7 linked regions of the Homo sapiens genome follow. The protein of the gene in region 6 purifies or fractionates together with the protein of the main gene of each other region. This does not show direct contact. Each region holds a gene or a part of one and is shown on either strand. Other genes may lie near its edges.

Region 1 (3,500 bases), on a different chromosome or scaffold from region 6:
CTGGGCTTAAGACCACCCTGATCCACTGTGATTCCACATAATTTAATCTGCAAAGACTTTGTTTCCAAATAAGTTCACATTCTGAGTTTCCAGGTGGATGTGAATTTTGAGGGGACGCGATTCAACCTAGTACACAAGGTAATTAAATAGCAGATGGTCCTGGCACAGGATTTGCACCAGGTGTAATTTAAATAGATTATTCTTTGAGTGACATTACTCACATAAATCCTACAAACAGAATAGCTTGCATACTGCCATCATCTTGTTTTTATTTTGGTATTCGTACATTTATAATACTGGGTTGGAAATGTCTTATATTTGACTGTTCACAATGAAGGGTAAATTTAGGATAAAGACATTTGAAACTGGTTGTTTTACTTTCACACACTAGTGAAATTTATTCACTTGCTTTATTAAATGTGTATTGGGTGCCTACTATTATTACCAGTCACTATTCTAGGCACTGAATCTACAGCAATGAGGCAAACAAAGTCTCTGCTTTGCAGATATGAAAACATCTACACTGCCATGCAGTGGTAAGTGATGTGAAGTAAATAGTGATGGGAAGTGTTGTGCTAGTTGAGATGACATTTAAGCAGAGACCTGAATACAGTGAGATGATCAGCCGTGTATATATTTGGGAGTAGAGTATTCCAGGTAAAGAAGAGATTGCAATGGTATGGGCTAAGCATCAGAAAGCAATAAAGCTTAAAGAAGAACAGATATGGAAATAGCATGATTTGATTACATTTTTAAAAATCACCGTGGCTGTTGTGTGGAAAATTGACTGTTGAGAGAGCAAGTTGCAAAGGAGAGTGACCAGGCATAAGTTTAATTATGTTGGTCCAGGTGAGAGGTGTTGGTGATTTAGTCAAAGGTAGTAAGAATAGAAATGGTGAGAAGCGACTGGTTCTGGATATATTTTACATTTGGAACCACAGGGTGTATTGTGAGTTTTGAGGGAAAGACAAATAGTGGGAAAGAATCCTTAGAGTTTTAGGCCTGAGCAACCAGAACAATGGAAATTACATACAATAAGATGGAAAAGCTACAGGAGAAGCAGATTTGTGAGGAAAAATCAAAGAATTCTGTTTTGACAATGTCAAATAGATGTCAGGTTAGGTGGTTTGATGTATCAGCTTAGAGCTCAGGTTGGAGCTGGAGGTCGAAATTTAGATGTTGTCAGCCTTCATACGGCATTTCAAGTCATTAGCCGGCATTATGATTTTTCCAAATTTATAAATATATTGAATACTGTATATAATGTTCCCATTCAGTCTAGGCCCTGAGAACGTGTCAGTGATAGTAGACATTTAAAATAGAAATATAGAGCGTTAGATAATTTCTAGGTCTCTGTTAAATGGAACTTCAAGTATTACAGTAGTCTCACCCAGTTTAGCACTAATATGTTATTTGATTCTTTGATATTAATTTAGTCTTCTTAATTAGATTGTTCAAGCTCTTTGATAGTAAAAACTATGTTCTTTTTTTGATGTTACACATGGTGCTTATCACAATTCTGAGAATATTAAGTATCGTATCCAAAGAATATTTATTAATGATTAAGTGATAATTTTAGTTGTTCAAAGGCAGTAATATTTTTGTCAGGATGATCTTTGTCTTTAGCATGGATTGATTATACAGATATCTTATCTAAGGAGAATATTAACTAGTTCTATTCTCCAACTCTAATTTTAAAGACTATGATAGATTTTATTTTATTCACTTTCAATAGTGTCATTTTTATTTCATTCCCATACGTTTATTATATTTTTAAATTTGCAGCCAGATTCTACTGCAACTGAAAGAGCAATTGCCAGACTAGCAGTACATCCTCTTCTGAAGAAAAAGATAGATGTGCTAAAAGGTATGAATTAAATGACTTTTAAGCCATGTACTTAATGTATTTGTAGACTTTGGATAATGGCTATTCACTTATTTTAACTCTTGAGGTTCTATTATAAATATAAGTTTCTTTCAAATATTTACCAGTGTGGAAGGTGTCTGAAAATACAGAAAGTGTGATCTCTGAAGAAAAACCAAATCTGTATTGTTTAGTAAATTCTAATATGTGAACGTATAATACGTAATATATATCTTTTTATATATAATATATACAAGATAAAGTTGAATAGTTTTTTTAAAATATTGACATAACTCATTAGTTTTGGTTTCGCCACTTAGGAACATAATTTTATATATGTTTATTATAAAATATATCTATAAAATGAAATTTTTTTGTCACATGATACTGAATTTTATGTCTGAAAGCACAGTTTATAATAATGCATTATTATTATATAAATTAAAGTTGCCATTCCCTTTTATTTGTATTCTGTGATGTTTTTACTGTTCTTCATAACTCCAAGACATGAAGAAAACATTTTCTTTTCATTTTCACAATTTAAAATGAATACGTCTGAGCATATCTTATGTTTGGTTTTTAAGAAGTCGAAAGATTTCTTTGTGAATTCAGACCGAGTATATGTATTTAATATCAATTCCAACTGCCCTCTTAAATCTTTTCAAATAATTTTTTAAAATACTGTCCTAAAACAGTCATGTTTTATATGTTTCAGTGCTAAAATGAGTGATGCACTGTTTCTCTTGCAGCTGCTGTACAAGCCTTTAAAGAAGCAAGACAAAATGTTGCTGAAGTTGAGTCATCAAAGAATGCTTCAGAGGACAATCATTCTGAGAATACTTTGTATTCAAATGATAATGGAAGTAATTTACAGCGTGAAGCAACTGTCATCAGTGAGCAAAAAGTCAAAGAAACCAAAATATTGGCGAAGAAACCAATACATAATTCAAAGGAAAAAATAGCAAAGATGGAACATGGACCTAAAGCAGTGACTATTGCAAATTCTCCATCAAAGCCTTCAGAAAAGGATTCTGTAGTTTCCCTTGAGTCCCAGAAGACACCTGCTGACCCAAAACTGAAAACTCTAAGTCAAACCAAAAAAAACAAAGGATCTGATAGCTCACTCTCTGGTAACAGTGATGGCGGAGAAGAATTTTGTGAAGAGGAGAAGGAATATTTTGATGATAGCACAGAAGAAAGGTTTTACAAGCAGTCTTCCATGTCTGAAGATAGTGATAGCGGTGACGACTTCTTCATTGGGAAAGTCAGACGGACACGAAAGAAGGAAAGTAGTTGTCATTCTTCAGTTAAGGAACAAAAACCACTAGAAAAAGTGTTTCTTAAAGAAGATACAGGTGAAACTCATGGGGATACAAGAAATGACAAAATCAAGCCAAGTACAGAAACCAGAAAGTTAGAATCAGTGTTTTTCCACTCTTTATCTGGATCTAAAAGCTCTAGAAGGTAAGATTCTTTTTCTATTCTGAAATAATCATTAGTTCTTTTTTAAAAAGCTATAAATGTCTACTTGTCCATACATGAAGAGACTATAATTCTAGTTTGTACAACCCATCCTGTTTTTAGACATGGCCCTCTCCAAGGTTGTAGTGGGGTATTAGGTACAGATACACATATG
Region 2 (3,500 bases), about 76 Mb from region 6:
ACTATCTTAATAATGAGTTACAGTTTTTTTCCCTAGAAGTGGGAACACAAACTACTTCAAGGATGTTTTAAATACTTTGTTTTTCCTGTTAGAATTTCCTCCTTGTTTTTGTTGTGTACAACCTTTAGTAGCCTTCTGAGAAAGGATCCATGGAAAACATATTTTTTAAGAACTTGCCTGTCTAAATATGTCTTTATTATAAGGTCACAACTTAATATATATAATTCTAGTTCAAAAGTAAGTTTTTAAAGAATTTTTAAGATTTAGAATTTGTTAGTTTTGAAGACTTTCTTCCATTCATTATCTTTTGGCTGCAAGAGTTGCTGTTGAATGTCTGATGCCATTTGGCTTCCTGGATCCTTTGCCATCTTTTTCTCTTAATAGCCTTTAGGATTTTCTTTTATCCTCTGTTCGTGGTGATGTACTTTGATATAGGTCTTTTCTTCTTCTTTCGTTTTGCTGTGCTCTTGGTTGGTCCTTTCAATCCAAAGACTTATGTCCTTCAGTTCTGTGACATTTTCTTGTATTATTTATTTGACAGCCTCCACCCACCACTTCCCCCAATAATGACTCTTGCCATGGTCTTAAGATTCTTCATGTCCCTAAATTCAGGGGACACTTACCATCTTACTTGACCTGTCATTACCATTTGAGATACTTGGCCATTCTTTCCTTTAAAAAGTTCATCTTGGCCGGGCGCGGTGGCTCACGCTTGTAATCCCAGCACTTTGGGAGGCCGAGGCGGGTGGATCACGAGGTCAGGAGATCGAGACCATCCTGGCTAACACGGTGAAACCCCGTCTCTACTAAAAATACAAAAAAAAAATTAGCCGGGCGTGATGGCGGGCGCCTGTAGTCCCAGCTACTCGGGAGGCTGAGGCAGGAGAATGGCGTGAACCCGGGAGGCGGAGCTTGCAGTGAGCCGAGATTGCGCCACTGCACTCCCGCCTGGGCCACAGAGCGAGACTCCGTCTCAAAAAAAAAAAAAAAAAAAAAAAAAAGTTCATCTTTTGGCCTTTTTTTTTTTTTGAGATGGAGTCTCGCTCTGTCGCCCAGGCTGGAGTGCAGTGGCGCGATCTCGGCTCACTGCAAGCTCTGCCTCCCGGGTTCACGCCATTCTCCTGCCTCAGCCTCCCGAGTAGGTGGGACTACAGGTGCCTGCTACCACGCCCGGCTAATTTTTTCTATTTTTTTTTTTTTTTTTTTTTTTTAGTAGAGACAGGGTTTCACCATGTTGGCCAGGATGGTCGCGATCTCTTGACCTCATGATCCACCCGCCTCGGCCTCCCAAAGTGCTGGGATTACAGGTGTGAGCCATCTCACCTGGCCCGTCTTTTGGCTTTTAAGTCACCATACTCTTGATTTTCCTTCCACCTCTGTGTCTGTTCGTCACACTCCTTTGCTGGTTCTTCCTCTTTCTGACTTTAAGGTGTGGGAATTCCACAGGGCTTGGGTATAGGCCACCTTCTCCTTTTCTTAAGAGAACCGGTCTTCTCCCATGGCTTCAATTACCATCTAAGTGCAATTTCTATCTTTACCCTAAGACCTCCCTTTTGAACTCCAGATCCACACATCCAACTGTCTATTAGAGATTTCTGCTTGGATGTCTCACAGATACCTTAAACTGCAAGTCCAAAACATGAACTAATTCAGCTCATGATGTCAGTCACAAATTTGCTCCTTCTGTCTTCCCACTCAGTAATTACCACTTCCATCTACCAGTTGCATAGGCCAGAGACCTAGAGGTCATTTTTAACACCTGTTGCTGCCTTCCCCGCCAAACCTAATTAAACACCAAGGCCTGTTAATTCTACCTACTAAATATTTCTCAAAAATACTTCTTTCTTTCTTCACTGTCATTTCACTAGTCAAAGCTGCTATCATCTCTTAGACTACTGCAGTCTTATTGGTATGTTTTTGGGCTTCATATAATCATTTACATGATTCTTTTAATCCTGTAATCATTTAATATATTCCTTTGTGTTGGGCTTCTTTTGCCAAACATTATATGAATGAGTTTCATCCATGTTGTTGCATGTAGTAGTAATTTGATCTTTTTCTTTGCTTTATGGTATTTTATGAAATATTATAGTTTATCCATTCTGTAGTATTTGGATTGTTTTCACTTTTTGTATGTTAAAAATATGATTCACGGCCCGGTGCAGGGGCTCACGCCTGTAATCCCAGCACTTTGGGATGCCAAGGTGGGAGGGTCACTTGAGCCCAGGAGTTCAAGACCAGCCTGGGCAACATAGGGAGACCCCATCTTTATTTGTTTTATTATTATTATTTTTTCTTGAGACAGAGTCTCACCTCTGTCATCCAGGCCGGAGTGCAGTGGCGCGATCAACTCCCCAGGCTCAGGTGATCCTCCCACCCCAGCCTCCCAAGTAGCTGGGACTGTAGGCACCTGCTACCATGCCCAGCTAATTTTTATATTTTTTGTAGAGACGGGATTTTGCCATGTTGCCCAGGCTGGTCTCAAATTCTTAGGCTCAAGTGATCTGCCCACCTCGGCCTCCCAAATTGCTAAGATTACAGGTGTGAGCCACCATGTCCAGCCTTAAATTTTTTAAATTAAAAACCAAAAAATACGATTCATGAATATTCTTGTGCCTTTTGGTGCACATGTGCCATTATTTCTGTTGGATATATACCGGGAAGGAATTTTCTAGGTCATAGGTTATACATATCTTCCAAAGCGGTTGTACCAATTTACACTCCCATCAGTAGGGTATGGGAGTTTTCCCAGTTGCTCTGTGTCTTCACTTACACTTGGTATTGTTATTAATATTATCTTTAATGTTTTTTGTTAGCCATTCTGTTGAGTATAAGTGGTTTTATTTACATTTTCCTGATGACTAATGAAGTTGAGTGCCTTTTTATGTGCTTATTCAATATTTGGGTATCTTTTTTTGGTGGAATTCCTGGTTATTTGCCCAATTAAAAAAAAAAAGCTCTATTTTGAGGTATAATTTATATACCACAAAATTCACCCATATAATTTTGTGAGTTTTAGTAAATCTGTATAGTTTTGCAGCCATTACTACAATCCAGCTTTGGAAGCTTTCTGTCACCCCCCGAAAGTTCTCATGTGCCTATTTTGCAGTCTGTCTCTATTCCCACACCAAGCTCAAGATAGCCCTTACTTGCTTTCGGAATGGCTCTGTAATTTTGCCTTTTCTAGAATTTTTTAATAAGTGGAAACATACAATATGTATTCTTAATATGTATGGCTTTTTGCACTTAGCACAGGGTTTCTCAGTGTTGGCACTACAGCCGTTTTGGACAGGATAATCCTTTTTTGTGGAGGGCTGTCCTATGCACTGTAGGATGCATCCCTGACCCTACCCCTTTGTGACAACCTAAAATACTTCCAGACATTGCCAAATGTCTCCTGGATGGCAAAATCAGCACCACTGGTTGAGTGTAATTTTTCAGGATTCATCTGTGTTATTCATTTGTCTATTAAAATTTTTGGTTATTTATATTTTCCTTAA
Region 3 (3,500 bases), on a different chromosome or scaffold from region 6:
TTCACCGAGCCCAATTTGGGTGCTCTATAGAACTGCTTGGGAAAATTCCCATTATTTCAAGCTGTTATATAGAACTCCAAAGAGCAGACAATCCTTCTTAATTGCTGTTGCTTTCAAGCAGCCTCATTTAGAGATGTCTTACTTTCTGCCATATTTAATAAACCTGCCACAGTAGGTACTTAATTAACAGTTTTTGAATGGATGGATAAATGGAAGGAAGAAAGAATAAAAGGAAGAAAGGAAAGGTGATGTCTAATGAAGGAGGCATGATTTGTTTTGTTTTGTTTTGTTTTGTTTTGTTTTGTTTTGTTTTTTCAAAAGGGCATGAGCTCAAAAAGTTGAAAAACACTGCCCTCACCCATAGTGAGCAACCTCCAGATCTGGGCACACCCATGGGAGTGTTGTGAATGTTAGTCATGTGTTATCAGGGGCAAAGGAGAGCCATGCTTCTTGTTTTCACAGGCTTTCACTTGATTATCCTCTAGGTAATCCAGTCTTTTATCAGAATTTCCCTAGAGTGGAGAGGCATCCTTCAACTGCTTGTATGCAGGTGATCAAACTGGCTAAAAAAGCCCTTACTTGCAAACCACAGTGCCTCCAATTTTACAACTTAAAAAGAAAATGACTTTCCAGTTAACTAAGCTGACTAGTTCTCTCTAATTCTTTTGCTTTTGAGATTAAACCATCTATTTCTGGAATTGTCTTCATTGTGCTCATTTATACACATCGTTAAAGATTTTCAGAGCTTTGGCCAGGTGCCAGTGGCTCACGCCTATAATCCCAGTGCTTTGGGAGGCCGAGGCAGGAGGATCACCTGAGGTCAGGAGTTCCAGACCAGATCAGCTACTCGGGAGGCTGAGGCAGGAGAATTGCTTGAACCCAAGAGGCAGAAGTTGCAGTGAGCTGAGATCACACCATTGCACTCCAGCCTGGGCAACAAGAGTGAAACTCCCTCTCAAAAAAAAAAGGCTCCTCAGCTGGGCACGGTGGCTCATGCCTGTAATCCCAGCACTTTGGGAGGCTGAGGTGGGAAGATCACCTGAGGTCAGGAGTTCGAGACCAGCCTGGCCAAAATGGCAAAACCCCATCTCTACTAAAAATATAAAAAAATTAGCCGGGTATGGTGGCGGGCACCTGTCATCCCAGCTACTTGAAAGGCTGAGGCAGGAGGATCGCTTGAACGTGGGAGGCGGAGGATGCAGTGAGCTGAGATCATGCCATTGCACTCCAGCCTGGGTGACAAGAGCAAAATTCCGTCTCAAAAAAAAGAAAACAGAAACAAACTCCTCACATAGCTGCTGCCACCCAGTGCATTTCCCTGGACAACCCCAGGGGCTAGATGTTCAATGAGTAAATACCCCCATACAGGTTGTGGGCACCTGGTTGTCCAGCCCGAGGCCAGGGATCCCAGGTCACACCCTTGATCAGGGAGGGATCAAGGTGCTTCTGCCATGCCCAGGATTGAGAACTCTGTGGATGCAAAGAGGGGTGGGTGGGAAGCCTGGTGTGGTGGCTCACGCCTGTAATCCCAGCATTTTGGGAGGCTGAGGTGGGCGGATCACATGAGGTCAGGAGTTTGAGGCCAGCCCCGGCAACATGGCAAAACCCTGACTCTACTAAAAATACAAAAATTAGCCAGGCATGGTGGCCGCACCTGGAGTCCCAGCTACTCAAGAGGCTGAGGTGGGGGAATCGCTTGAACCTGGGAGGTGGAGGTTGCAGTGAGCCAAGATTGTGCCATTGCACTCCAGCCTGAGCAATAGAGCAAGACTCTGTCTCAAAAAAAAGAAAAAATTGCAATTCCCTAATGACTTATGACATTGAGTATGTCTTCCTATGCTTATTTGCCATCTGTATATCTTCTTTGGTAGGGTATTCTTCTTTGGTAGACCTATCTGTTAAGGTCTTTTGCCCATTTTTAAGTCAGGTTGTTCATTTTCTTATTGAGTTTAAAGAGTTCTTTGTATATTTTGGATATTAGTCCTTTTTCAGATATGTCTTTTACAAATATTTTCTCTCATTCTGTAGTTTGTCTTCTCATTCTCTTGACAGTTTCTTTTGCAGAGCAGACATTCTTAATTTTAATAAGGTCCAGGTTTTTAACTATTTCTTTCATAGATCATGCCTTTGCTGTTGTATTTAAAAGGTCATTGCTTTTAAGAGGTCATCTCAATTTTCTACTATGTTAACTTGTAGGAGTTTTATAGTTTTGTATTTGACAGTTAGGTTTATGATCCATTTCAAGTTAATTTTTGTGCAAGGTGCAAGGTCTGTGTCTAGATTCATTTTTTCACATGTGCATGCCAGTTGTTCCAGCACCATTTGTTGAAAAAACTGTCTTTTCTACTGACACTTGTTCCAATTAAAAAAAAAAAAAAGAAAAAAGAAACTGTATTTTTTTTTCCATTTAAAGCCTTTGCTCCTTTGTCAAAGTTCAGTTGACTCTATTTATCTGGGTCTATTTCTGGCCTTTCTGTTCTGTCCCATTGATCTATTTGTCTTGGCTGGTTTTTTTTTTTAGAAGAAATTGTTATATAGAAGAGAAATTAAAAAAGAGGCCAAATAGACTGTAGGTAAATTATTCTCATTTTAGATGCTTTAAAAAAGTCCATGATACAACCGAGGCACTGAATGAAGTTTAGCATAATGATAATACTAGTATAATTATTTGAAAATGTCTCGGCCGGGCACCGTGGCTCATGCCTGTAATTCCAGCACTTTGGAAGGCCAAGGTGGGCGGATCACCTGAGGTCCGGAGTTCAAGACCAGCCTGGCCAACATGGTGAAACCCCGTTTCTACTAAACTATAAAAAATTAGCCAGGCATGGTGGCGTGTGCCTGTAGTCCCAGCTACTCGGGAGGCTGAGGCAGGAGAATGGCGTGAACCCGGGAGGTGGAGGTTGCAGTGAGCCGAGATTACGCCATTGCACTCCAGCCTAGGCAGCAGAGCGAGACTCCGTTTCCAAAAAGAAAAGAAAAAAATAAAAATAAAAAGGATTTTTTTTTCTTTTTTTTGAGACAGAGTCTCGCTCTGTTGCCCAAGCTGGAGGGCAGTGGCGTGATCTCAGCTCACTGCAACCTCTGCCTCCCGGGTTTAAGCGATTCTCCTGCCTCAGCCTTCCGAGTAGCTGGGACTACAGGCACATGCCACCATGCCCAGCTGATTTTTGTATTTTTAGTAGAGGTGGGGTTTCGCCATGTTGGCCAGTAAAAAGGACTTAAGATCCTTAAGGTATTCAAATTTTCAGGGTCTCCTGAAGCCTCATCTGATAATTTCTCCAGTGTTTTCAAACAGAAAAGTATTACCATTGATTCTTACTTTTCATTGATCACACATACACCTTTTGGGTGGCAGTGGGTGAGGGGGGTGCTTTCCAGTGAAGACCAGAAAACCTGCTAGACAAATTCTAATAGAGCTGTAACACTCATGCACCTTTCTTAGTAGTAAGGCATATGACATTATTCAGACAAAGCTTCCATGGAGAATAAAATGTTATATA
Region 4 (3,500 bases), on a different chromosome or scaffold from region 6:
CTAAGCTTATGTCACAAGTGAGTGTGCCCCTCCCCCTAAGCTCATCTCACAAGTGAGTGTGCAGCTCCCCCTAAGCTCATGTCACAAGTGAGTATGTAGCTCCCTCAAGCTCATGTCACACGTGAGTGTTCAGCTCCCCTAAGGTCATTTCATGAGTGTGAAGTTCCCCTAAGTTCATTTCACGAGTGTGCAGCTCCCCCAAGCTCATGTCACAAGTGAGTGTGAAGCTCCCTAAACTCATGTCGCAAGTGAGTGTACAGCTCCCCTAAGCTTATTTTACAAGTGAGTGTGCAGCTCCCCCAAGCTCATGTCACAAGTGATTATGCGGCTCCCTCAAGCTCATGTCACAAGTGAGTGTGCAGCTCCCCTAAGCTCATGTCACAAGTGAGTGTGCAGCTCCCCTAAGCTCATTTCACAAGTGAGTGTCCCACTCTTCTCACCATCTACTGGCTTCCGTGTTCTCCCTGGAATCCTGGTGCCATGCTCTGGTGCTGACTTCTTTCTTACTGATGGCTTTAACTCTTGCCAGATGGTGACAATTCTCAAACCTGTTTCCCACTCCAGCATTTCTCATGAGCCTGAGCTCAGGTCCCCCTGCTGCCAGGACGTGCTCCGGGTGTCTCTGACTTACTCTGTCAAAACTCCCTCAGTCATCTCTTCTTTCTGCTCTTCATCTCCTCTTTCTCCCACAGTTTATGGTGCTCTTGCAGACTGGAGTCTGGTGTGTCAGGCTGAGGCTTTTGTTGGCAGGAAGTGTAGAATTTGGATCTGAATGACTGGGGCAGAGCTTGGCTGCCACAGGCCTCTGCAGGCCTGTGTTTTCCTCCTAGCCTGGATTGCCAATGTGTATTTCCCACCTGGCCTCTGGAGGCTTTTGACTCCAAGGATATAGACTCTGATCATATCTTGCCACAAGATCCTGCCTGTTTTCTCTTACCAATCTATCTCTCTAGTTCTGACCTTATTTAAGCTTATCCCATTTCCATGGTTTCCTTACCACCCTTTCTGTTTCTGGTTTCTTTCTGTCACAGGCCATGTACCACCTTGCTGCCAGAGCAGTCTTTCTTTCTTTTTCTTTTTTTTTTTTTTTTTTTTTGAGACAGAATCTCACTGCGTCGCCCAGGCTGGAGTGCAGTGGCGCGATCTCAGCTCACTGCAAGCTCCGCCTCCCAGGTTCACGCCATTCTCCTGCCTCAGCCTCCCGAGTAGCTGGGACTACAGGCCCCTGCCACTGTGCCTGGCTAACTTTTTTTTTTTTTTTTTTTTTGAGACACAGTATCACACTGTTGCCCAGGCTGGAGTGCAGTGGTACGATCTCTGCTCAGTGCAAGCTCTGCCCCCCTGGGTTCATGCCATTCTCCTGCCTCAGCCTCCCTAGTAGCTGGGACTACAGGCACCAGCCACCACGGCCGGCTAGTTTTTTTGTATTTTTAGTAGAGATGGGGTTTCACAGTGTTTGCCAGGATGGTCTCAATCTCCTGATCTCGTGATCTGCCCGCCTCGGCCTTCCAAAGTGCTGGGATTACAGGCATGAGCCACCACACCCAGCCCAGCAGTCTTTCTTAAGTACAAATTTGATCATTTTATTATATCTGAAACAGACTAAAGGCAGGTTGACTGTGAGGGGTGGCAGGAAGCTTTTGGGTGATAGATGGTGAGTGGTCTGTAGTGCTGGTTATTCCATATAGACTTTTGTCAAAGCTCATGGAAGTGTTTGTTTAAAATGGGTAAATTTATTACATATGTTATACTTCACTAGTGAAATCTTTAAAAACTATGCTGGTGGCTTCCTGTCATCTTCTGAATAAACCCTGATTCTTCTTTTTCAAGGTAAACAAGAACTTCTGGTGTGCCTTCCACCTTTCCCATACCTCCCTCCATCCTCACCTCTAACCTCTCCACTTCAAATTGCCATCTGCACCTCAGTTGCGAGCTGCCCCCTACTCGTGTGCTCTTGCCTCTGGGTCTAAAGTCTGCAGCGCCCTCACCCACCCATCCTCCCTTCTCCACACATCCTCAGGATCATCCATCAGATGGCCATGCACTCCTTAGGCATCCCATCTCCATACCTAAATTCCCTAACACCCTGCCACTTAACACCTCTTCCCTTGAGACACACACTTTCTAGAAGTGGCTGGAGGGCAGGGATGCTTAGCTTCATTTTGCATCCTCAGAGGGTTAGCTCTTTGCCTGGACAGAGAAGGTGCTTGATAATACTTGTCAAGTGAATGCATGGAAGCCACTTCTTAAGACTATTCCTGAACATAACATCTGCTCACATCTGGGTTTATTAAATTGCTTATTTCTCTACTTGTTGTCCTTCTGTTTCAGGAACTCTGATAAGACTTTTTAGAAATGAGTAGTTTACAAGGAAGAAACATACACTAGTGACTTTAAATGAGAAGGAAAAGAGTAGTTTCAGCTTCAGGAGGATAAATCTTGCATATGTGGGCTACTATAGTGCTTTTTTTTTAATTTAAAGAGATTCACTGGAGAATATTTGTGGTTAGTGATCATTCAAGGTAAAGTGTGAAGACTTGGTCAAATCAGGTACTATATATATAAATTCATAGTATTTTGTAGATGTGTACACAGAGAGAGAGACAGAGCTGGCTGTCTTCATGCTTAGCCATTTTTAGACCATTGTCCCTTCACCAGCAGGAATACGAAGTGTCCCTCTGGGTAGCCAGAACGAGCTGACTTCTGTTCCAAGGGGAGGGTGTTGAATTGAGGACTGAAGGTGGAGCAAGAGCCAAGGTCCCTCAGGGTCTTCTGTGGAGATTTGGGGCTTTTGTCAAAAGCTACTCAACATGTTTCTAATTCTTTTTCCCCATTTAGAATATATGAGTAGTATTTGTCCCCACCCTATCTTACAAAGCCTTCAGAGTGTTTTGAGGTAATGCTTACAAAGTCTCCCAGAGAAAAGCAGAGGTCCTCTACATCCAGTATCATAATGAAAAGCAAAAATAAACTTACATAGTGTGGTAGGGTGGCTCTACTCAAAGAACTAGATCAAGGAGAGGCCTGTCTTTCAGAAGTTCATACATCTAAAACATGTCTTTGTTTGTGTTACCAGGTTCAGAAGAGGAATTTCATAGAAAATATTATTCCAATTATCATCTCCCTGAAGACTGTGCTGGAGAAAAATAAGATCCCAGCTTTGCGGGAACTCATGCACTATCTCAGGGTAAGGGTGGAGCCTGTGCTTTTGTGGTTGTTGTCCTACCAGTTCATTACTTAGGATCTTCTGCCAGTTATGACAGTGCAGGCAATCCGTGAATGATTAGAACCCCAAATTCTGCAAACCCAACATTACCTTGGTAACTGCTGTGGAGCTAGGGGTTGGCTGTGGGTTCCACCAAAGCCGCTCTTTCCCTTGGATGTGCAGCCAGGGCCGTGAAGAGCCGGCCCACTGTGCCAAGCACGTCTTCCCTTAATGGAGTTCAAGTCCATCTGGAAAACTTTCCCAGCTGGGGTCAAGAACACAGTCATCTTCGTTC
Region 5 (2,940 bases), on a different chromosome or scaffold from region 6:
CAAAAGGCAAATGGTACTGTCCACAGTGCACTGCTGCAATGAAGAGAAGAGGCAGCAGACACAAATAAAGGTGGTCCTTTTGTTTGATGAAGAAATAAACTTCAGCTGAAGATTTTATATAGGACTTTAAAAAGAAGAGAAGAGAAAGAAGAAACAATGCATTTCCAGGCAACCACTTAAAGGATTTACATAGACAATCCTATAAGATCTTGAACTTGAATTTTATGGGTTGTATTTTAATAATGTAAGTAAATTATTTATGCACTCCTGGTGTGCTATGAATATTATTCCAGTTAGCCTTGGATTATTTCAGTGGCCAACATATGCAGACATTTGTACTCCTCAACCATTTTCTCAAAGTAATGGGCATTCTATGATTTAGACTTCAAGGAATTCCAATGATGAAGATTTTAAGGAAAGTATTTTATATTCAACAGGTATATTCTGCTGCATGTACTGTACTCCAGAGCTGTTATGTAACACTGTATATAAATGGTTGCAAAAAAAAAAAAAAGTCAGTGCTTCTAAAAAGAATTTAAGATAATGGTTTTTAAAATGCCTTTATAATAAGCTTTGTTTCTTTGTGAAACTAATTCAGCAGGCTGAAGGAAATGGTTCATGTGATAATGTGGGCTGGTATCCTCTAGAGTACCTGGGTACATAAACAGAAACTCCTGTAGGTAAAAAGTAATTTGTGCCATTAGTCTTTCTATGTTTCTGCATCCAGATAGAGTGCAGTTCATGAGGGAGGGGGCGGGGGACTGAAGGGGAAAGGGCGTTAAAGTGATACATTTTTATACCAAATGTGTTTATTTTTTTGTGCAAGTAATCCTTAAAATTGCAATTGTATTAGGTGTTAAAATAAAGTTTTTAAAAAATTACTTGTATTTATACTTTACATACTTAATAATGAAAATTTCTGAATTCCAATTAACTTTCAACTTTCATAATCTAAAAAGAATCAGAGACCCAGGACACAGAATACTGTGTAATCTGTGATGTCTTTAATGATGTTTAGAGTTTGTGATATAAGAATACAGGAAAGACATTTTTAATGTAAATTTGAAATGCCAATGTATTTTTTTAAGAACATCATCTGGCTTTTCCTTCAGTCTAAAAGACATGAAAGAAGTGTAAGTATAGCAGTTAAAACGAAAATAATGGTTATGGGTGTTTTGACTGGAGGCAATGTAGCCAAATAGAGTAAAGAGACCCCCCTGGTCGGGAGCTCCAAATTGAGCTATTTTTGATTCTACCACTTACTGATATGACAGTTAATTCAAATTTTGTATCACTCTGGGCCTTACTACACCAGGGTGATGCTGACTGCAGAATAGATCTTATTCTAAGGTGCTATTTAAATTATAAATTTGCATAGTGGAGGTTTTATTTAAAGTATAATATTGAGTCTGGTCGATAGAAAAATCCTTAACTTTTAAGATACTTAATATATCATATATATTTTATATTGAAACTTACTGGGTCCATCAGATTTCTGCTTTAATTAAACCACTTATGAGCTTCTTAGAACTTATTCAGATAACAGTGTAAAATCTATGCAGTGCTACCCAAAGGGTGTGAGGTAGATAGGGGATTTCAAAGATCTCTTCCACCTTTGAGATCCCATGATTCTGAGCTGCCACAGTCTGATTATACAACTCTACCAGCTCCCTAAACAAGTTAGGTTCATTTGTGAGTACTCATCATTTCATAATATCATGATTATCACGATTTCATGATACTCAATATTTTGAGATTTTATAACCCTTTAAGAAGTGATAAATAATGTAGTATTCAATTCGTTTATCAAAGTATATTGCCTGGAAATGCTCACATGTATCATTTACATCCTCTATATATTATGACTATTCCAAACTCATTCATTTTATAGAAATGGTCAAAGGAAAAAGCCTTATGTACAGCCTTATTTGAAGAGAAAGTTCTTTGTCTGAGTCAGGAACATCCTGTTATCCAGCTGCTACATCCCCTTTCAGTGTGAATTCCACTCCTTACCAAATCACTTAGAAAACACTTTGACAAGTTTTAAACTCAAACACTGAATATTTTATGAAGCATGTGTAAAGAAAGAAACCAAAATTTGGTGCAGGTATTTAGTAATGGGTAGAACCTGTTAATATCTGAGTCATATATAATGGGGCCAAACATGGAACTACCTCATCAACCCCCCAAAAATGTGGCCAACTATTAATATTCTTTGTGACATTTACACCAAGGGGCATAGTAAGTATTTTTGGTATTATAAAATACACATTCAAAATCTCTGTTGTACAAAACTCATGTAACAGTTGGGACAAAATATCCAAATGTGGGTTCACAGTTCACAGGTGGTGAAAATTGAGGCCTTACTGCTATGGAGTGTATATCAAAATGTTCATGGTGACACATTTGAAGCAATAAATGGCTTAATTAAATGCCAAAATGAGGCTGAGTGTTTGATAAGCATACAATCATTCTTTTCAAGGGCAGTTTATATTTTTTTGTTCTCTTCTCCTTTAAAGCAAATTCCACGTTTTAGGTTTTTAACCATCTTAGGTTTGTGCAATATTAGTGCCCTTTGTCTTTAGACTTTAGGAATGGTCTTATTGACCTAATTAATTATTTTAATCTTATGCAAATAAATGTCTAACAAACTTGGGTTATAAAGGGGTATAAGATACTCCTTAATGTGTAGACATTGCAATGGTTTCCCCTCAGCTCTCACAGATAAAAATACATTTATTTTTTAGCAGATGGGTTTTAAGAGAAAAAAAGACCCTTAAAAATATTCTTTAACTTTACAAATACTAAGCACCTAGATTCTGAGAATATACAGATGAAGGTATTATATGTGTGTGTGGGGGGAGTTGGTGGGGGCAGACATGTTAAATGTGTTATCTTGATGAATGCTGTAATGGATACACAAAGCACTGGGAGAACACT
Region 6 (3,500 bases):
TTTTTAAAGAAGAGAGGTTTTCCCCCTGGCTGTAAGAATAATACAGGGTCATTCTAAAAGGGATAATTGAGACAATAAGAAGAGCAGAGAAGAACATCTATAAAAGTATACCACTGAATACATTTTAGTGAGCATTCTTTAAAATATCAAGGGATATGTATACATACCACTATACATACCAGTATGTGAGTTTTCCAAAACAAAGGGATTATATTATATCTTACATTTTTAAACCTGTTTGTCCTCCTTTCCTACCACCTCACCCCCACTCATAGTATGTGCTGTATCCGTTTAGATGGCCAGCTAGTATTCCGTTTCATAGCTGTACTTTAGTCAGCCTTCAGTGAGAGATACTTACATTTTTGCCAGCTTTTCACAAAGATTACAGCTCTTTGAGCATCCTGATTTATACGTCTGTGTGTACTTGTCCAGTTACTTTAGAATGTGTAGCTGGAAGTAGAAATGAATATGAAGTCTTCACATTAATGTACACCAAAAAGCCTTTTTTTTCAGTTTATACTCCCACCAATTGTATTCATATTCATTCTGCCACATCCTTATCTCTACTGTTATCATTCTTTCTGTTTTTGCCTCTGAGTGTTGCTGTTTTACTTATATTTGCATTTCTTTTGATAAGAGATTTTTGCCTGTTTATTGATCATTTTAAAAAATAAGTTTTCTTTTTACATATTTTACCCATTTTATACGTTAGCATTCATCTTTTTCTTCATTAAAGTCTTTATATAATAAAATTATTAGCTCTTTGTCATGTGGTACAATTTTCTAAGCTATCATTTGCCTTTAAAATCATGTATCAGTTGAATATATGTTTGTGTTCTTGTGTGTGTGTGTAATACTGCCATATGCTACAGATTTTTTTTTCCAGTTTGTCATTTACCTTCCAATATTGTTAAGGATGAATATGGGGATGGGGAGGTGAAGAGGAGGTAAAGGGTGTTCTTGTCATTTCAAGGTTTTAATATTTATATGGTTGGATCAGCTATTTTCATCATGGCATTTGGGTGTAACGTATTTAGGAAGGCGTTTCCTCTGTATTAGAAATATATGAATCCATAGTTGCCTAATTCTTCTATAGTTTTATTTATAAAATGAGTTTCTCTCCTACTTGGAAGCTTCTTCTAGGATGAAATAGAATAATTAAGCATAGCCCTGCCCCTCCTACCTCCTGAAAGTGCATACTCATCATGACCTTGTTTTCTTCTACTGCCTTTTCCTATGTCCTTGCTTCACTTTCACTCCCTACATCTATTATTAAGCCTTTCTAGATCTTTCCTAGCCCTGAGTTTATCTATATATCTTTCAGTAATTTCTTCTCTCCTTCCCCCATCAGAAAATAAAACTACAGGATAGAGACAAAAAGCTGTGCTTCATTTATCTTACAAAGATGTTATTATACCTACCACATATTCCTGTTTTGAAAACAAACACAAGCAACAATCTAACTTCTATTTAAGCATATACACTTTATAGTTACTATAAATCCTGATGCGATGCTATTGCACATGGTTCCCTCCACCCCCTAAATTATAACACCTATTTAAACACTTTTGTAAGTGAATCCAAAAATGGCAAGCCTCTAAACATCTGGCCTAATTATTAATAAATATTCACAAGCAAAGTTTCAAAGTCAAGTGTAATATTTCAACATTAAAACTTTCTTGCTATGGTTTTTACTTTTAAAACATCAGGATTTATGGATATTTTAACTGGAATTGCAGTTCTGATTTTTATGTTGTGTTTCATTAAGGCAGTTTTTGAAGTTGATCTCAATGAAGACCAGAGAGAACAAAGTTCATGTTCACTTGTTTTTCTGCCAGCTCTGGAAGTTATGGATACAGTTTCCTTATGCAAATAGAATAAACTTTCTTCCTGTTATCAAAAAGTCTTGGGGCTAAAATATTTCATACTTGGTCCTTGCCTCAAACTATTTGTTATGAATATAGAACAGTGTTCCATGTATGGAAAAATAGCTGCTTCTTAAATTTCCAAATTCACTAATTCACTGTATAGAAAAATAGCTGCTTCTTAAATTTCCAAATTCAGTAATTCACTGTTCCAAATCCAAGGCTTGTCTTTTCAGTAATGGCTTTTCCTTCTTTTTTTTTTTTCTTTCTCTCTAAAACAGATAGTCTGTACTACTAAAAGTTAAATGCTTAACATGGTGCAGTTCTCAAAGTTATAATGTATCTGGATACTGAATAATTTGAATATTACTAATTTGTCATTTTTTGCATGTAAGCAGATAGCTAGGATACGTTCTCATAATGATTTGTCATTTAAAAATATACATTTTTTATTGAGTATGAATCAGATTGTCTGAAATAGGTACTAGTACAAGGCTATGAAGAGCATTTCTAGTTTCTTATTATATATATTACCAATTGCTTCCTAAAAGTGGTGACACTTTTACTGATACACATAGTAATCATTTTACTATGATATGCATAGTAGTTACATCTTTTGGCTTCTAGTTGATTACTTTTTTTTTCCCTGCAAATTTGGGTTTTGATTACTTGAGCATAGTGATCAAAAAAGATCACTGGGCATCCATATACCGTTTCATTAATGATTAATGGACTACAATATTGACTTGTCTCATGTTATCAAAGTTATAATCTGCTTTATATAGCAAGTTCACTTTGCTTTAAACAGCTTTTAATTTATATTATTGTTCTTGAAAAGGTGAGTAAATATGCAAATTGAATAATTTTAAAATCCAAGGCAGGTTTTGTAAGAAACTTAGAGGCAGAGAGAATTTTTGTAAAGAGAAAAATTATTTATTTTATAAATTTATCTGTTCAGAACATTTACTTTAAATCTGTTAATTCTTCACTTAAGCATGGCAGGGTGGGGATTAGTTTCTGTGGTGGTAAGGATCTGGAAGGAAAGGCTTTCAAATTTATGTAAGTGTATCTGTGGAAGAGTGGTGAATGTTCAAAGTGGTTTACATTGAAACGTTACTTTCCTCTTAAGTTTCTCTTCTGGGGTTATAAATGACTGCAGATCCTCCCTACTGTCTTGCTGAAGCCCCTCACGCCCCTGGTTTGAATTCTTCTCCAATCTTATAAACCTCTTACAGGTTATTCTAACATTTTTATATCTGGGGGAGCTTCTGCTTGTCCCATAACAAACCCTCATTTACAGCAGTGGGACTGGTAGCTAAGTTGAGGTTTGATACATGTTTTTACTTTTACTTTTCTTTAGGTTACTTTGCATCAGCAGACTGCAAACTTTTTCTTAAAGAGCCAGATAGGAAATAGTCCAATCCTGAAGTGGGCCATGTGGCAATACGTAAGCAAATAGGCCTGCTGTGTTTCAATAAAACTTTATTTAATAAAACAGGTGGTGGGCTGAGCTGCTTTGTATAATCTTAGGTACCTTGAATCCATAGTCCAAGGATGGTAGAAAGACAAGAGAGAGAAGGAATTGGGCCCGGAAGTAAAGGCTTGTTAAATAGGTTCATTCTTTTTTTTTTTTCT
Region 7 (4,055 bases), on a different chromosome or scaffold from region 6:
TCTGGACCTGAGCCTCGGTTTCCTCTCCTTCAGAGTGGGTGTGATGAAATTTCACAGGGTTGCTAGGGGAAAGAGATCCATTCATTAAGTGCTTCTTTTGAGCACCTGCAAGTGCTAGGCACAGTCCCTGGGGCTGGGCACACAGCGGAGAGCAAGGCAGCCTAAACCCGCCCACCTCCAGGGCTTTTAAAGTCTAGTTGGGGCTGCGCGGTGGCTCACGCCTGTAATCCCAGCACTTTGGGAGGCCGAGGCGGGTGGGTCACCAGAGGTCAGGAGTTCGAGACCAGCCTGGCCAACATAGCAAAACCCCGTCTCTACTAAAAATACAAAAATTAGCCGGGTGTGGTAGCACACGCCTGTAGTACCAGCTACCAGGGAGCCTGAGGCAGGAGAATCGCTTAAATCCGGGAGGCGGAGGTTGCAGTGAGCTGAGATCGGGCCAGTGCACTCCAGCCTGGGTGACAGAGCGAGACTCTTATCTCAAAAAAAAAAAAAAAAAAAAAAAAAGAACTGTACCTGGCGCGTAGTAGGTGCTCGGTAAATTTGTTCAATGACTGAATGTGCTGGGTGCTCAGGGAAGACTCTCAGATCCCATCCCAAGAGACCAGAATGGAAAGCAGGAAATGGATTGGGGGAAAGGGAGGTCTGAAGGCAGAGAGTCCCAGGCACGGGAGCCTCCAGGCAGAGGCCCTGAGACAGGACCAAACTTAGCGTTAGGGAAAATGAAAGTAGAATCAGGAAGAACTTAGATATCTGAACACTTTGCAAACTACAAAGTGCTGCATACACGTGCGGGAAGGCGGTTTCTGCGGCTGGTTCTTTGTTTACATTATACATTTTTGAAGACTTTGTCTTCAAAATGTGGCTTTGGGGCATGCCACTCTCGGGGCCGAGTCCTTCGCGGGCAGTTTCTGCAAAGTCCAACCCTGCAGGGCCCTTCTCCCGCGCCGCGCTGTCTCGCTGCTTCCTGGAGGGTAAATGGACCCACACACAGATGTGGCGCCGCGGGCTTGCCGGTCACCTGCAGAGGCCGGCACCCCTGTCGCGATGGGTGGTGGAGGTGGGGCAGAGGTGGGACGAGCCAGGTCGGGACCCGCAGCTGGCGAGTCAGAGCCTGGAAGGCCCCGCGCCCCCGCGCCGCGCTCCCTAAGTGCTCCGCCCGGCCGGTGGCGACCAGGCGCGCTCGGGGCAGGCGGCGGGACGGGCCGGGACCGGGGCCGGGACGCGGCGGGGAGGGGAGGGGCCGGGCCGGGCCGGGCGGGAGGAGCCGCTCGCCGGTTTTGCCGCCTCCGCCTTTGCCTTCGCAGCCGCCTCCAGGTAAGGGGGCCCCGGAGGAGCCGCCAGGCCACGGTGGCGCGCACCTCGCTGGGCCACTCCCCGCCGGCCCCACGCGGGGCACTCGGAGCCCGGCCCAGCCCCGGGGCCCTTTGCCCTGCGCCCCGCCCTCCACCCCGGGGACACTGGACCCACCAGGAAGCGGCCGCGCGCTCCCTGGCGCTGCCTGCCCTAAGCCCAGGCCGCCTGCTGGTGGTTGGTTTGTTTTCAGAGCCGGAAGTGCTTTTAGAAATCTTGGGGAGGCAGAGGGGGAAACTGAGGCTGGGCGGAGCACTCGGGCGACTCCGGCCTCGGCCTCCGAGTTCTTAGAGGTCACCCAGCCGCTCCCTTGACAAATGAGGACGCTGGTCAAGGTCAGAGAGGAAGGGGGCTTGCCCAAGGTCACAAGAGGTCCCTGTGCTTCCCCTTGCCCCACGTGGCCCCTCCACGCCCCCGTCAGGAAGGCCTCTAGGACTCCCCCGCCTCCTGTCTCCCTGTCCCCCCGCAGACTCTCAAACAGAGAATTCCAGGAGGGCTTGGGGAGCCTCTGGAGAAAAACCAGGCTCCTCATGTTACAAGGAGGCCATGTCTTCTGGTGCCCATGCCTGAAGTTACAGGAGGGAAGAATTACTGCTGCTGACTTTTGAGTGGATTTTACAGCTGGGTAAACTGAGGCTCAGAGAGGTGAGGTAACTTCCCCAAGACCACACAGCTAGGAAGCAAGAGATAAAAACCTGGGCTACCTGCCTGGAGAGCCTGACCCAGTGCTTCGCACAGAGTTGGCCTCCACAATGCCTTTGCCCTGACCAGGCTGCCTGGCCCTTCCCTGGGGTTGCACTGGGAATTAGGAGCAGGGCCAGGCTAGAATCCCAGACTACTACCTAACTCGAAGTAGGAGTCAGCACATGAGCCCCCTTTTTCCTAACTCAGTGTTCATTGCAGAAAATATGACACTCTTTTAAGCTTTGGGAACATCCATTTGTTCATTCACCAAATATTTGTTGAGCACCTACTGTGTGCATTGTTTAGGCAACGAGGATACAGCAGTGAACAAAAAGGAGCGCTGCCCTCAGGAAGTACACTCCAGAGGGTGGAATAAAGCCCTGCCCTTCAGCCTGGGGAGGGAGGGCTGGGCACAGGGGAGACCACTGGCATTTCCCCAACTGTGAAGTACATGAAGACAGCAGAAGAGATCGGTATTAGAGTGGCCTCAAGCCCTCGTGTGCAGCATCAGACAGAGATGGGCTCAGGTGCTAGCTTTGCAGCTTTGTAACTGAGTGGGATCAGGCAAGTTAAATGACCTGTCTCCAAGGTTGTTGTGAAAATTAAAGGAGCTGAAGCCACAAAAGGCCCAGTGCAGTATCTGACACTTTGGGAGACTTTATACTTTTTAGTCCTAAGGCCCAAGGAGGAGTTGGACAGGAGGAGTTCATCGATTAGGTTGTCATAGCTCAGCATGTAGCTCCCACAAAAGCTGGGGTCTGGAGAGTTCCTCATAAGGCTCAAACCATCTCTCTCTACTCTGGTACCACTGGGCTACAAAGGCTGATCAGCCACCAGGGCTGGCTAACGTGGGACCTAAGAAATGTCAGTGGGTGGTTTCTCATTGTGTTCTCTTTTGGCCTGTGTGTTTTGTAAACAGTGTTGTACATTATAAACCGGGGCTGCTGATGAGGAGTGGGGAACTGGCTCTCTGGAACGTGTGACAGCAGGCAGAAGGGGTGAGAGTGAAATCCAATCCACTTTCCATTTAGCCGACCTCCGCTTCAAGCTGCCCTGATATCATGGTACCACCCTCTGCCTAAAACCCCGCTCTGGCTTCCCATTTTCTTCTTTCTCCTTTTCTTTTCTTTTCTTTTCTTTTCTTTTCTTTTCTTTTCTTTTCTTTTCTTTTCTTTTCTCTCTCTTTCTCTCTCTTTCTCTCTCTCTCCCTCCCTCCCTCCCTCTCTCCCTCCCTCTCTCTCTCTCTTTCTTTCTTCTCTCTTTTTTTTTTTTTGACAGAGTCTCACTCTGTCACCCAGGCTGGAGTGCAGTGATGCAATTTCAGCTCACTGCAACCTCCGCCTCCCAGGTTCAAGCGGTTCTCCTGCCTCAGGCTTCCAAGTAGCTGGAACTACAGGCGCCCACCATCATGCCCGGCTGATTTTTGTATTTTAGTAGAGATGGGGTTTCACCATATTGGGCTGGTCTTGAACTCCTGACCTCGTGATCTGCCCGCCTCAGCCTCCCAAAGTACTGGGATTACAGGCGTGAGCCACCGCGCCTGGCCTTGGCTTCCCACTTTCTTAAGGAAAAGAGAAAAAACCTTTTACATGGACCAGAAGGCTATGTACCACTGTCCCCTGGCCTACACCTCCAGCCGCATCTCAGACCACTTATCAACAGCCCTCTGTGCCCAGGCATGCCACCCCTCCCTCCTTGGGACCTTTGCACCTGCTCTTCCAGGCCACTTCTACCCCCTGCCTCCCTTTTCCCAGGTAACATCTTCTCATTCTTCACATTTTAGCCCTAGCCAGACTTGTACTCCAAATGCCCAGGCCACAAGACTTCTACTGGTATGTCAGAGGTTAAGTTCAGGGTGGAATTATACTCTCATTGCTGGGATTAATTCCTGCCTGTACCCTGTACACCACCCTGACTGTAACCCCTGTGACATCCAGGACCAGGGCCAAGTTTGCTTAGTAGGTGCTCAATAATGATGTCCACCTATAGGGAGGCCCTCTTGAGCATATTGGGGACCT

The links.
Region 1: the proteins of RAB18 (region 6) and SRFBP1 purify together in Homo sapiens (affinity purification with mass spectrometry; one large-scale study listed by BioGRID and IntAct). This does not show direct contact.
Region 2: the proteins of RAB18 (region 6) and SLK purify together in Homo sapiens (co-immunoprecipitation; one large-scale study listed by IntAct). This does not show direct contact.
Region 3: the proteins of RAB18 (region 6) and TANGO6 purify together in Homo sapiens (co-immunoprecipitation; one large-scale study listed by IntAct). This does not show direct contact.
Region 4: the proteins of RAB18 (region 6) and NCAPD3 purify together in Homo sapiens (co-immunoprecipitation; one large-scale study listed by IntAct). This does not show direct contact.
Region 5: the proteins of RAB18 (region 6) and ING3 purify together in Homo sapiens (co-immunoprecipitation; one large-scale study listed by IntAct). This does not show direct contact.
Region 7: the proteins of RAB18 (region 6) and TMCO4 purify together in Homo sapiens (affinity purification with western blotting, with the first as the bait; one study listed by BioGRID). This does not show direct contact.

The regions. Positions count from the first base shown.
Region 1 is NC_000005.10:122,017,475-122,020,974, forward strand, and holds part of SRFBP1 (serum response factor-binding protein 1), read left to right. Parts: intron 1-1,785; coding exon 1,786-1,867; intron 1,868-2,613; coding exon 2,614-3,328; intron 3,329-3,500. UniProt on the Homo sapiens protein: May be involved in regulating transcriptional activation of cardiac genes during the aging process. May play a role in biosynthesis and/or processing of SLC2A4 in adipose cells.
Region 2 is NC_000010.11:103,973,640-103,977,139, forward strand, and holds part of SLK (STE20-like serine/threonine-protein kinase), read left to right. Parts: intron 1-3,500. UniProt on the Homo sapiens protein: Mediates apoptosis and actin stress fiber dissolution.
Region 3 is NC_000016.10:68,923,531-68,927,030, forward strand, and holds part of TANGO6 (transport and Golgi organization protein 6 homolog), read left to right. Parts: intron 1-3,500.
Region 4 is NC_000011.10:134,161,468-134,164,967, reverse strand, and holds part of NCAPD3 (condensin-2 complex subunit D3), read left to right. Parts: intron 1-3,076; coding exon 3,077-3,187; intron 3,188-3,500.
Region 5 is NC_000007.14:120,974,777-120,977,716, forward strand, and holds the end of ING3 (inhibitor of growth protein 3), read left to right. Parts: coding exon 1-68; 3' UTR 69-2,440; downstream 2,441-2,940. UniProt on the Homo sapiens protein: Component of the NuA4 histone acetyltransferase (HAT) complex which is involved in transcriptional activation of select genes principally by acetylation of nucleosomal histones H4 and H2A.
Region 6 is NC_000010.11:27,528,304-27,531,803, forward strand, and holds part of RAB18 (ras-related protein Rab-18), read left to right. Parts: intron 1-3,225; coding exon of another isoform or gene 3,226-3,312; intron 3,313-3,500. UniProt on the Homo sapiens protein: The small GTPases Rab are key regulators of intracellular membrane trafficking, from the formation of transport vesicles to their fusion with membranes.
Region 7 is NC_000001.11:19,797,117-19,801,171, reverse strand, and holds the start of TMCO4 (transmembrane and coiled-coil domain-containing protein 4), read left to right. Parts: upstream 1-1,255; 5' UTR 1,256-1,317; exon of another isoform or gene 1,318-1,670; coding exon of another isoform or gene 1,671-1,688; intron 1,689-1,822; exon of another isoform or gene 1,823-1,998; intron 1,999-2,956; 5' UTR 2,957-3,035; exon of another isoform or gene 3,036-3,098; coding exon of another isoform or gene 3,099-3,101; intron 3,102-4,055.